Linked DNA regions of Homo sapiens: region 1 is linked to region 2. Evidence: fine-mapped expression QTL. A gene starts in region 2. The other region holds a variant in brackets. All regions are shown on one strand. Distances are between the middles of the regions.

What was found.
Region 1: its variant is fine-mapped to the expression of STYK1 in nasal epithelium (TOPMed, PIP above 0.99). The same link has a PIP of 0.9 or more in prefrontal cortex and unexposed skin.

The regions. Positions count from the first base shown.
Region 1 is chr12:10,626,199-10,631,585 of GRCh38, reverse strand. It overlaps STYK1 (serine/threonine/tyrosine kinase 1), which reads left to right. Exons shown (of 11, transcript NM_018423.3): 5 at 278-541; 6 at 1,912-2,093; 7 at 3,862-3,945. Among named protein-coding and RNA genes, the nearest start is that of MAGOHB, 15 kb to the right of the region's middle. The variant C/T (reference allele first, on the strand shown) is at 2,069.
Region 2 is chr12:10,671,934-10,677,320 of GRCh38, reverse strand. STYK1 (serine/threonine/tyrosine kinase 1) reads left to right here and starts at 3,269. Exons shown (of 11, transcript NM_018423.3): 1 at 3,269-3,355.

The sequences.
Region 1 (5,387 bases), 46 kb after region 2:
TACTCAATTGTAACCCAGAGGAAGGAAGGCAGAAAGGAAGTGTCATGACCGATTTCCTGGGGTCCTTCTTGAGTTGTCCTAAGAACTAATGGGGATTATTATAAAGGTTCTACAAACTTGACATTGATGCTGGTTTATAGAGAAGCATCAGAAGACAACTCCCCATTGGCCAAAGAGAAAACTGCTGAAGGAACCTCCTTGCCAATTTGTTTCAGGGTCTGCTTTCCGGGATCCCCAGGGCGGGGAAAAACTGGTTGACATCATCTCTCTGTTCTAGGCATTGCCCCTGTTCCTCCACCTAGGGACCTAAGCTGGGAAGCAGGACATGGAGGAAATGTGGCTTTGCCACTTAAGGAGACATCCGTGGAAAACTTTCTGGGAGCTACCACACCTGCCCTGGCTAAGCTGCAGGTGCCGCGGGAGCAACTCTCTGAAGTTCTGGAGCAGATTTGCAGTGGTAGCTGTGGGCCCATCTTTCGAGCCAATATGAACACTGGGGACCCTTCTAAGCCCAAGAGTGTTATTCTCAAGGCTTTAAAAGGTAAAACAAGAAGTGTTTGACTCCCCCTTCCCCTAACAGTAAATATTAACAGGCTTTGCGAACATTGAGATGTTAACTAACAGATAGTTGTGATCATAACTGTGTACAGAAGAAGGTAATAGAGTGGAAACTTGAGGCAGAAATGTTTTTCTTGGTGTCTTTTTTTTTAATTACACAAATTGTTTATTTGTGAATCCTTACCCAATCTCCAAATAATAACTAAAATGACTACTACAAATAAGCATAATGTTATGATGAGTAAGATGTTAGCTGTGGGTTTTTACACAGTCTTTATTGTGTTGAGGTACATTCCTTCTGTACTTTGTGTAGTGTTTTTATCATGAAAGGATATTGGATTTTATCAAATGCCTTTTCTGCATTGATTGAAATGATCATATGATGTTTATCCTTTATTCTGTTAATGCGGTATGTCACAGAATTGATTTGCATATGTTAAAACATCTTTGCATCCTAGATTCCCTAGCTCTTCTTTGCATCCTAGGTTCCCTAGCTCATCTTTGCCTATTGAGGCTGTTAAAACAGATTTTTTCACAATGGATGTTACTTGTACTAGGATTCTGAGGTTGTTTCCTCATTTTACTTTATTCTTTGATACCCCTTCCTGATATTATATTTCTTTTTTCTTTTTTTTTTTTTTTGAGACAGAGTGTTGCTCTTGTCACCAGGCTAGAGTGCAATGGTGCCATCTGGGCTCCCTGCAACCTCCGCCTCCCAGGTTTAAGTGATTCTCCTGCCTCAGCCTCCCAAGTAGCTGGGATTACAGCCGTGTGCCACTATGGCCAGCTAATTTTTGTATTATTAGTAGAAATGGGGTTTCACCATATTGGCCAGGCCAGTCTCGAACTCCTGACCTCAGGTGATCCACCAGCCTCAACCTCCCAAAGTGCTGGGATTACAGGTGTGAGCCATCATGCCCAGCTTACATTATATTTCTCTCTCTCTCTCTCTCTCTCTCTCTCTCTCTCTCTCTCTCTCTCTCTCTCTCTCTCTCCTCTTCATGATATGGGCCAGTAATGGTGGATACATAGAACAAGGATAAGACAAGCAAGGATATTAATCCAAAGGACTAGACAGTGATAACTTTTTAATGCAAACAGACTATCTCTCTATTTAGGCAGATGAAAGCCTATCCAGTTCTAATAATTATGATTCTGTGTTACCTTTGATAAAAGATCAGTGACATTAAGCATCATCTTCATCTAATTAGTCCCCTTTGTGTTTATTTTTGCCTTCATTCACTCCCATGTGGGGCCTTGAGAATTAACATCTTAAGTTGCCTCCTGCTCCCTGCCTCCCACTCATCGAGGATGCTCTGACTGCTCACTGCCTGGATCTTTCGTCCTCTACAGAACCAGCTGGGCTCCATGAGGTACAAGATTTCTTAGGGCGAATCCAATTCCATCAATACCTGGGGAAACACAAAAACCTGGTGCAGCTGGAAGGCTGCTGCACTGAAAAGCTGCCACTCTATATGGTGTTGGAGGATGTGGCCCAGGGGGACCTGCT[C/T]AGCTTTCTCTGGACCTGTCGGCGGGTGAGCAGTAGGGCAGAGGTATTAGGAGGTTAAGGCTTGACCTTGTTGACTAGCTTTTTACATGTCAGTTAGTGTGACAAATGACAAAATGCAGAGACACTATAATAGCATGACAGAATAAGGGAGTATGACCATATAATAGAACTTTTTGTAATTATAGAAATATTCTATAACTGCTCCATCCAGTATGATAAGCCACTAATCACAGATGGCTTCTAGACACTTGAAGTGTGGCTGATGTGATGGAGAAACTAAATTTTAAATTTTATTTAATTTTAAGTAATATAAGTTTAAATAGCCACAGGTGGCTAATGAGCAGAGAGTGGACAGTACAAGTTTAGAGCATGGACTTTAGGCTTCACCTCCTACTAGTTATGTGACTGTGAGCAAGTCACCTTTCTGATCCTGAGTTTTCTGAATCTGTAAAATGGGAGTAATAATTATTACAAAAAATACAAGAAATTATGTATGTGAAAACATGGCCATGGTTGGTACAGAGTAAGCACTCAAAATGGTAGCTGTTATAAAGATAATTATATAACAATTATCTTTATATTGTTTATATATAACAATTATCTTTATATGAGTATTTTTGGTAATGATTATAATTTTGTTGCAGTTATTAAGTGTGTTTTCCATTCTGTAACATCACTATAATATGGTGGGCAAACTCAGGGAGAAATTTAGCTTGTAAAGCTTTTGTAGCTCAAACTCACGTTTTTTAAAATTAAAGCATTCAGAAATTTTTAGCCTCAAATGGATGTCCTTTTCCTTAAAATTTCCCTTGTTCTATATTCCTCTTTCAGAAGTGCTACCTGTTTCCCTAGTTTCTCACTTGCTAGTGAGCAAGTTCAATATTCTTTGAGCCTCCTTCATATGCTGATTATTGTACAACTGAATGTGTATGAGAAAGGGACCCTGTTATTGTCTTCCATCCTGTATTGTCAATAGGACGATTGCAAGTATTTAGGCATTTTAAACTTTTTAAAGAGGTCACTCATCTAAAACTTGTTTTGTCCTCTAACTGCACTAGCTTCTTTCCATTTTTAAAAAATACCACGCATCTCTATTTCAGATTATCTTTATATGTTTTTCTTGTTCCACCAAACTTCTCTCTTCTCTTCTTTTCATAGTTAATGTCCACTCATCCTTCAGATCTCATCAATTTCCCTGTCCCTGCAACTCAATCAACTCTCTTCTGCCCACCATCATATGCTCTCTTAGCACTTTGTACATTTCCTTTATGGCACTTACAGATATGTAACCATTGATTTATGTATGATTATTTGATTCTGATTCACATGTGCCTGTCACCCAATAAGCTCCAGAAGGCAGCAGCCATGCTATTTTACTCATGCTTGTATTCCAAGTTCCTAACATGGAATAAGGGACATTTCAGGCATTCAATAAAGATGCATTCAGTTTATGTGCTAAATTAATCATGAACACATGTGTGCTCACATGTGCATACACACACAAGCACACACACAGAGCCCTAGAAAAATTGCTGCTTTATTCAGTGGATAGTCTTATTTATACTTGTCTTACCTGCTATTCATCTATGTCTGTCATTGTTTTTCCAGTCCAATGGATCATTTTATGTCTCTGCCTATCTGAAAATCTCCCACAGCCTCACTTTGAACACTAGTCCTTATATTTTTCAAAGCTTTGATAACTGCATTTCAGAGTATCTCTGCCCAACTTTATTTCTTTTCCAAATCTGTGAGTGCTATTTTGATATAATGGCTTTTTTTCCCTGTCTCTTTAGGATGTGATGACTATGGATGGTCTTCTCTATGATCTCACAGAAAAACAAGTATATCACATCGGAAAGCAGGTCCTTTTGGCGCTGGTAAGATGAGGCAACATGACAACTGATGGTGTGACGTTTCCTTGTTAGCCTTGTTTTTGATGCCATATTTCTCATATTAATATTCTCAAGTGGTGTGTATGTTTTAAAGAAAATTAGATAGAAGTTAGGGGGCAGAAACTCAAGCATGGATAAATTGTTTTTAGTCCCTTCCTTAGGGATTTATCTAGATAATTTACCACACTATTGGTAATTTCAGGGAGAAAGTAGTCAACTTAGGGTTTATACAAGGAACAGGAAGGATTTTTCAGATTTTTCAGGGCCAAGAGGTATACACCCATTTACTTGATAATTTTACATCCCCATTTGTACTAATAATAGAATTAAAAGAGACAGATAGGGAAGCAAGTAGGGAGAAGATATGGAAAGAGAAACTGAATGGGTGAAAGGCGACAGAACCAGAAGGAAGTATGCAATTTTATACCTGAGAAACAAGAAAACTAGTTCAGAACATGTTTGGTTGGAGACTTGCTTTGATACTGAATGTGACAGGGAGTACATATAATTATAAAAGATTAAGGAACAAGTGGAAAAGGATGAATGAGAAGAGCACAGTTGGATAATTCCTTTATTTTAAAACAACTTAAATATTTGTTTATTTATTTATTTATTTTTTGAGATGGAGTCTTGCTCAGTTGCCCAGGCTGGAGTGCAGTGGCACGATCTCGGCTCACTGGAAGCTCCGCCTCCCAGGTTCACGCCATTCTCCTGCCTTAGCCTCCCGAGTAGCTGGGACCACAGGCGCCCACCACCACGCCCGGCTAATTTTTTTGTATTTTTAGTAGAGACGGGGTTTCACTGTGTTAGCCAGGATGGTCTCGATCTCCCGACCTCGTGATCCGCGCGCCTCGGCCTCCCAAAGTGCTGGGATTACAGGCATGAGCCACCGTGCCCGGCCTAAAACAACTTAAATAACGAGATAAGAGAAAGAACTCAGGGTTTAAGATAAAAAATTTACCTTTACCAGAATTACCCAGGAAGTTTATATGTCTATTTCTATGAAATTATTTAAATGGTTGTGTTTAAAATTAACATTTGCTATGGAAAATCGGGGTTCTGTGAAGCTACTGTTTTAAGTATTTGATATATCTTGCTACTTTGAGGTGTGAAATATAGGGATGTAAGTGGAATCAGGAAAAGGTTAGAAAAAAAGGATTAAGGTGGGTAAAGAGTAATAGTTATGGTTGAAGCTCCCATGGGACAAGGGAGAGTACACATCATATACGTGAATATTGTCTATGGTGTTTGAATGGCCTCGTTGATATGTTCCCTTGATAAAGAGTGTCAGGATACAGCCTACCCTGTATTCAGAACCGCAATTGCAGAGGCGCCGTCCAGGGATGAATTGGTCAAATTGGTGCATTCATCAGGACCCTATGCTACCTGTTACAAGGCAATATCATGCTATTTTTTTCTTACTTTTA
Region 2 (5,387 bases):
AAGGCTATCAACCAAAGAATATGGGAGACCTTTATAAGCTGGGAAAGGCAAGAAAACAAATTCTTCCCAGGAACCTCTAGAAAAGAATACAGGCCTGCTAATACCTTGATTTTAATCCACATAGAATTTTGTTGACTTCTGACTTACAGAACTGTAAAATAAAACATTTATGTTGTTTAGACCACTAAGTGTGTGGTAATGTGTTATGTTAGCAATGGAAAACTAATATATAAGGTAAAAAGAAACAACATATACATGGAAGCTTACCAATGATCAATATTCTCTAGGGTATACCAACCAGGGTTAAACATGAGGTCATATGAATAGTAATTTCCCATACTCTGTCGCCGCCTTTAGTTGGTTGCAGAACCTCTGTTGTTTCTTAAAAGATCTTTTCCCCAACTGTCCCTGAAGATCCTCAAGATAGTAGAGGACCTCATAAATTTTCACAATCCCAAACCCTAGCGGCTACATAGAATCCACTCTTTTCCTTGTCTTAGATTTCTTCTGGTGATGTCTATTGTTCTCTAAATGCCTGGGAACTCCATTTACATGCCAGGCATTGCTGCAGCAGTGACTCTACTGCTGACTTTGTTTATAATTTTCATCAGAGTGACTCTGATCCTCTGTGCCAGTGCAAGCCTTTCAGGTAAGCCTCAGGCCCATGTGGAGCTATCTCCTACTGGTAGCCACTGCTTGCCCTTTTGTGAAAGTTGAACTGCATTTCCAGATAAAGTTGGAAGAATTCACCTGCCCCGCTTTTGTGTTATATTCCCTTGAAAACAGTTCCAAAGCAAAGCTACCTTGTGTACACAAGGTCTCATACGGTTTTGTTGTTGCTGTTGTATTTTTCTGTGAAATAACTCTACCAGTTGTACTTGAGAGTCCCCTCTCACTAGGACTCTGTTATTGCATACGGGCTTGGCCAAAGGACATTGAGATGCAGACCCAGCGCTGAACCCCAAGCTATTCTTGTTAGTGGAAAATACCTTTGTGCTTTGATTTTCTTTTTTCTTATAATGAGTGACTTTCCAGGAATTCCTCCATGCCTTCCGTAAATAGATTCCACCCCACTAAACCAGTAGATTCCTTCCTCACAACTGCAGAATCATACAAGAGGGAATATACTAAGTAACACATGGATGGATGGCTTTAACAGTTTAGAGGAGCGCAGGATCTGGCAGTTAGGATTCATGTAGGCTAAACTGGAGAAGGAAGAGATCTCCAGTGTATATTTCAGTGTGACTTCCCACTACCGTTCAGTACTTAATCTGGACAGAGAGATAATGGGCATTCAACAAATTCCTATGGAATTAATAATGAGGCAGAAATAACGATCTGGTAGAAACACTGGGGCCAAAGCATTGTTGACAATGAGTTGGAGGCTTATAAATTTGAGATGGAGGTAATAATTGAAATTACAAGGGAATGAAAACTTGAAGAAAAAAGAGAAATAATGGATATTCTAACCATCTTATTAATGAGTATAATGTGTGGGACTAGCTATACATATATAACTCCTGGTGAATGTCTGCTGTGTAACTCAGACTATTTGGTACTTAGTTGTTTCTGTGTGTGGGCATTATCATTTCCAGTGTTTTCTCTAACTCAAAATGTTTTTAATGTATAATTTATGTGATTTGCTCAAAAAAATTGGAGAGAAAAATTTTGCCTCCCCTTTCTGGATTGTATTTTGGTTTCTTTTTTAACTTCTATTTCTATAATAGTAACTAGATTTTAGACAAAATTCTGTGCATCAGAATGAGTATCTAGCAATACATTGCAGAAATTTTAAAAATGAGTAAACCACTTTATCTGTCATGGAGGAGCATGCTTGGGGAGGTAGAGTAGAAAATTACATAATATGAAGTTCCAATCAGTTCATTTGGATTTGATGTATCACTTATGACATAAAGAATCTAAAGAACAACTAACTGATGAGATGTCTTCCTTTCCCCTTTTGAGGTAAAATTCACATAACATAAAATCAACCATTAGCCATTTAAAAATGAACAGTTCAGTGGCATTAAGTACAATTCATCCTGTTTTTAAAAAGCCCTGAAGGAAGTGAAAATGCCAATAGAGAAAGCTCTAGAGAACTGACATACCTCAATCTCTAAATATGCCACATTACATTGACTCAAGTTCTTTTTGCTCTAATGACTGTCAGTTTGTGTTTGGTATGCGTTCAATGCTGAATAAATTGGTCACATATTCAAGTTACCTATGACTCTTATTTCTTTAATTGAATTTGTATTAGGTGTTAATATCTAACAGAATTCCTTCAGCTATCTATTGTCTTAAGTATTTTCTATTATTTTAGTTTCCATGTGGACGGGTAACATAACTACCTTGTTCACTGTTTCCCCAGAGGAGAACCCAGGACATAATGGGATATATGTGTGTGTGTGTGTGTGTGTGTGTGTGTGCGCGCGCGCGCGCGCGCGGGCTCTAAATGAATGATCTATTACGTAATCTTGGGGTTTTAATTCTCATTAATTCCTTATAGGTTCCCCCACGTCTCCGCAGTGGTCAGTACTTTTTTTTTTCTTTTTTTTTTTTTTTTTTCTGAGACGGAGTCTTGCTCTGTCGCCCAAGCTGCAATGCAGTGGCACAATCTCGGCTCTATGCGATCTCTGCCTCCTGGGTTCAAGAGATTCTCCTGCTTCAGCCTCCTGAGTAGCTGGGATTATAGGCGCCCGCCATCACGCCTAATTTTTGTATTTTTAGTAGAGACGGGGTTTCGCCACGTTGGCCAGGCTGGTCTCGAACTGCTGACCTCAGGTGATCCACCCGCCTTGGCCTCTCAAAGTTCTGGGATTACAGGCGTAAGCCACCACTCCCGTCCCTTCAGTATTATCTTGTAACACCCCGGCAAAGCCTTCAGGTGGAGAATGTTCCTGGCGCGGAATAATCCACCTGAATGTGAATCCTGACCATTTTTAGGCGCCAATGGAGGCCGCTGCTACGGGGCCGGCCGTGAGGTGGCGCTGTTGCCCTGTATCGTGACTCCGTTTTCACCTGGACTGGAGTCACCGTGATACCTGACATCTAGCAATCACTAGAGTAGGAAATGAGTATAGATCAGCAACAAGTCCAGCCTTTACAGTTGCAGCAGAGGTTTCCTGTGGCTCGAGTGTGGCGAGTCCCGGAAACCTCGGAGCCCGCAGACTTCCCTTCGCGGGAGCCCGCCCGAACTCCATCCTTTGCCGGCAGCCACGCCCCGCAGTGGGAAGGAGGGACTGAAAAGCATTTCCTTGAGGCTGGCACACCTTGCCCTACCCAACCCTGTCATTATTTCCCCTCCGACTGGGCCGGTGCCATCGGAAACCGGAGTGACCAGAGGAGGGACACGGTAGTGAACGGGGTATGGGGGGCGGGCGCGGCGGGGAGGGTAAAGAAGGTGGGAAGGGAATGGCAGCGAGGCAGCTGGGGGAGGACTTTGCAGTTGGGGAGGGAGAAAAAGGGAAGAGGCTGGGAGCGGAACGGGTGTTTATGTGAACAAACAGAAATCACCAAGTGAATTAACCTGTGTTTCTTCGGAACCAGCATCTTGTGGGGTTTGGCTTCTGTGTTTCTATATGATAAGGGAGTAAACCTGACTCAGCAGATTTGGTGCAGAGAGAAACATGAGAAAACCCAGGAATGGGGGACCTCTGTTTATTCCTGGAGAGGGGGCCATCAGGAGAGGGGGAAGGGAAAGAATGAGGTTACAGGAATTACTTGTCAGAGGACTGCATAGCCTTTCAGACCATGGAATCGTTGCTTTCAGCTTCGGCTTCCTCATCTGCAAAGCATAAATACGGTAATTACTTTCCAGGGTTGTTGCGATATTTAAATGAGATATCAATAACCATGCTTTAAAAGTGTACAGCCTGATGTGCTATCCCTTGTTGACTGAATCTCTGTTTTCTTTCCTTCTTTTTATTTGGGGTGGGGAGTGGGGGAGGGAGTCTTGCTCTGTCACTCAGGCTGGAGTGCAATGGCGCGATCTCGGTTCACTGCAACCTCCGCCTCCCAGGTTCAAGCGATTCTCCTGCCTCAGCCTCCCAAGTAGCTGGGATTACAGGCTCCCACCACCACGGCCGGCTATTTATTTTTTTGTATTTTTAGTAGAGACGGGGTTTCACCATTTTAGCCTCTGTTTTCTTTTCAATGTCTTTTTTCCTCTTTCATTTTTCTCTATCAACCCTTCATCCCCCCTTTCTTTCTTTCATTTATGCGATTGTTGCTTCCTTCTGTAATGGGTCCTCTCCACATTGGAGTTTCTTATACCTATGAGACCACACTTCCTTCCCACTCGGTGGGAAGTAGTGGCAATAAAGGAGTCGAGTTACTGTAATGTGCAGCACAGCTCAACTGAAATACACCTGGAAACAGAACTCTGTGCTGTCTACCTGGTTTTTCCCCCTCAATGCACCGGAATCTCCACTGACAGCTAGCTAGGGGGCAGCTAGGTCTTTCAATGAGACATCATGAAGTATTTGCTTCAATGAAAATCATATACTTTTTCGTTCAGTGCCTCCATTACTGTGTGAGTTTGCTAGGGCTGCTGTAACAAGGTACCACAAACTGCATGGCTTTTGGCACCAGGCACCAGGGACTGATTTTGTGGAAGACAATTTTTTTCACAGATGCCGATGAGGTTGGCGGGAGATGGTTTCAGAATGAAACTGTTCCACCTTACGTCATCAGGCATTAGAGTCTCATAAGGAGTTCGCAACCTATATCCCTCACATGAGCAGTTCACAATAGGGTTCACGCTCCTATGACAATCTAATGCTAGTGGGCACGGTGGCTCACACCTGTAATCACACCACTTTAGGAGGAGTTGGTGGGTGGATCGCCCTGAGTTCAGGAGTTTGAGACCAGCCTGGGCAACTTGGCGAAACCCATCTCTACCAAAAATACAAGAGGAAGAAAAAGAAAGAAAATCTAATGTCGTGGCTTATCTGACAGGAGGAGGAGCTCAGGAGGCAATGACAGCGATGGGGAGTGGCTGTAAATGCAGATGAAGCTTTGCTGGCTCACCTGCCTCTGATTTCCTGCTGTGCACCCCGTACCTGTCGGCGCCCCGGGTGTTGGTGACCTCTGGCTTAAACAACGAAATGATTTTCTCACAGTTCAGTAGGCTGGCTATCCAAAACTAACATGTTATGAAGCCTGCATCTATTCCAGGCCTCTTTCTTTGGCTTGTAGATGGCTGTCTTGATGTTTATATGGTGTTCTCCCTGTATATATGTCTCTGAATTTCCCCTTTTTATAAGGACACTAGTCTTATTGGATTAGGGTCCATCCTAATTACCTCATTTTAATTGATTATCTCTGCACTATCATCTCCCAATAAAGTTACATTATGAGTTACTGGGGGTTAGAATGTCAGCATA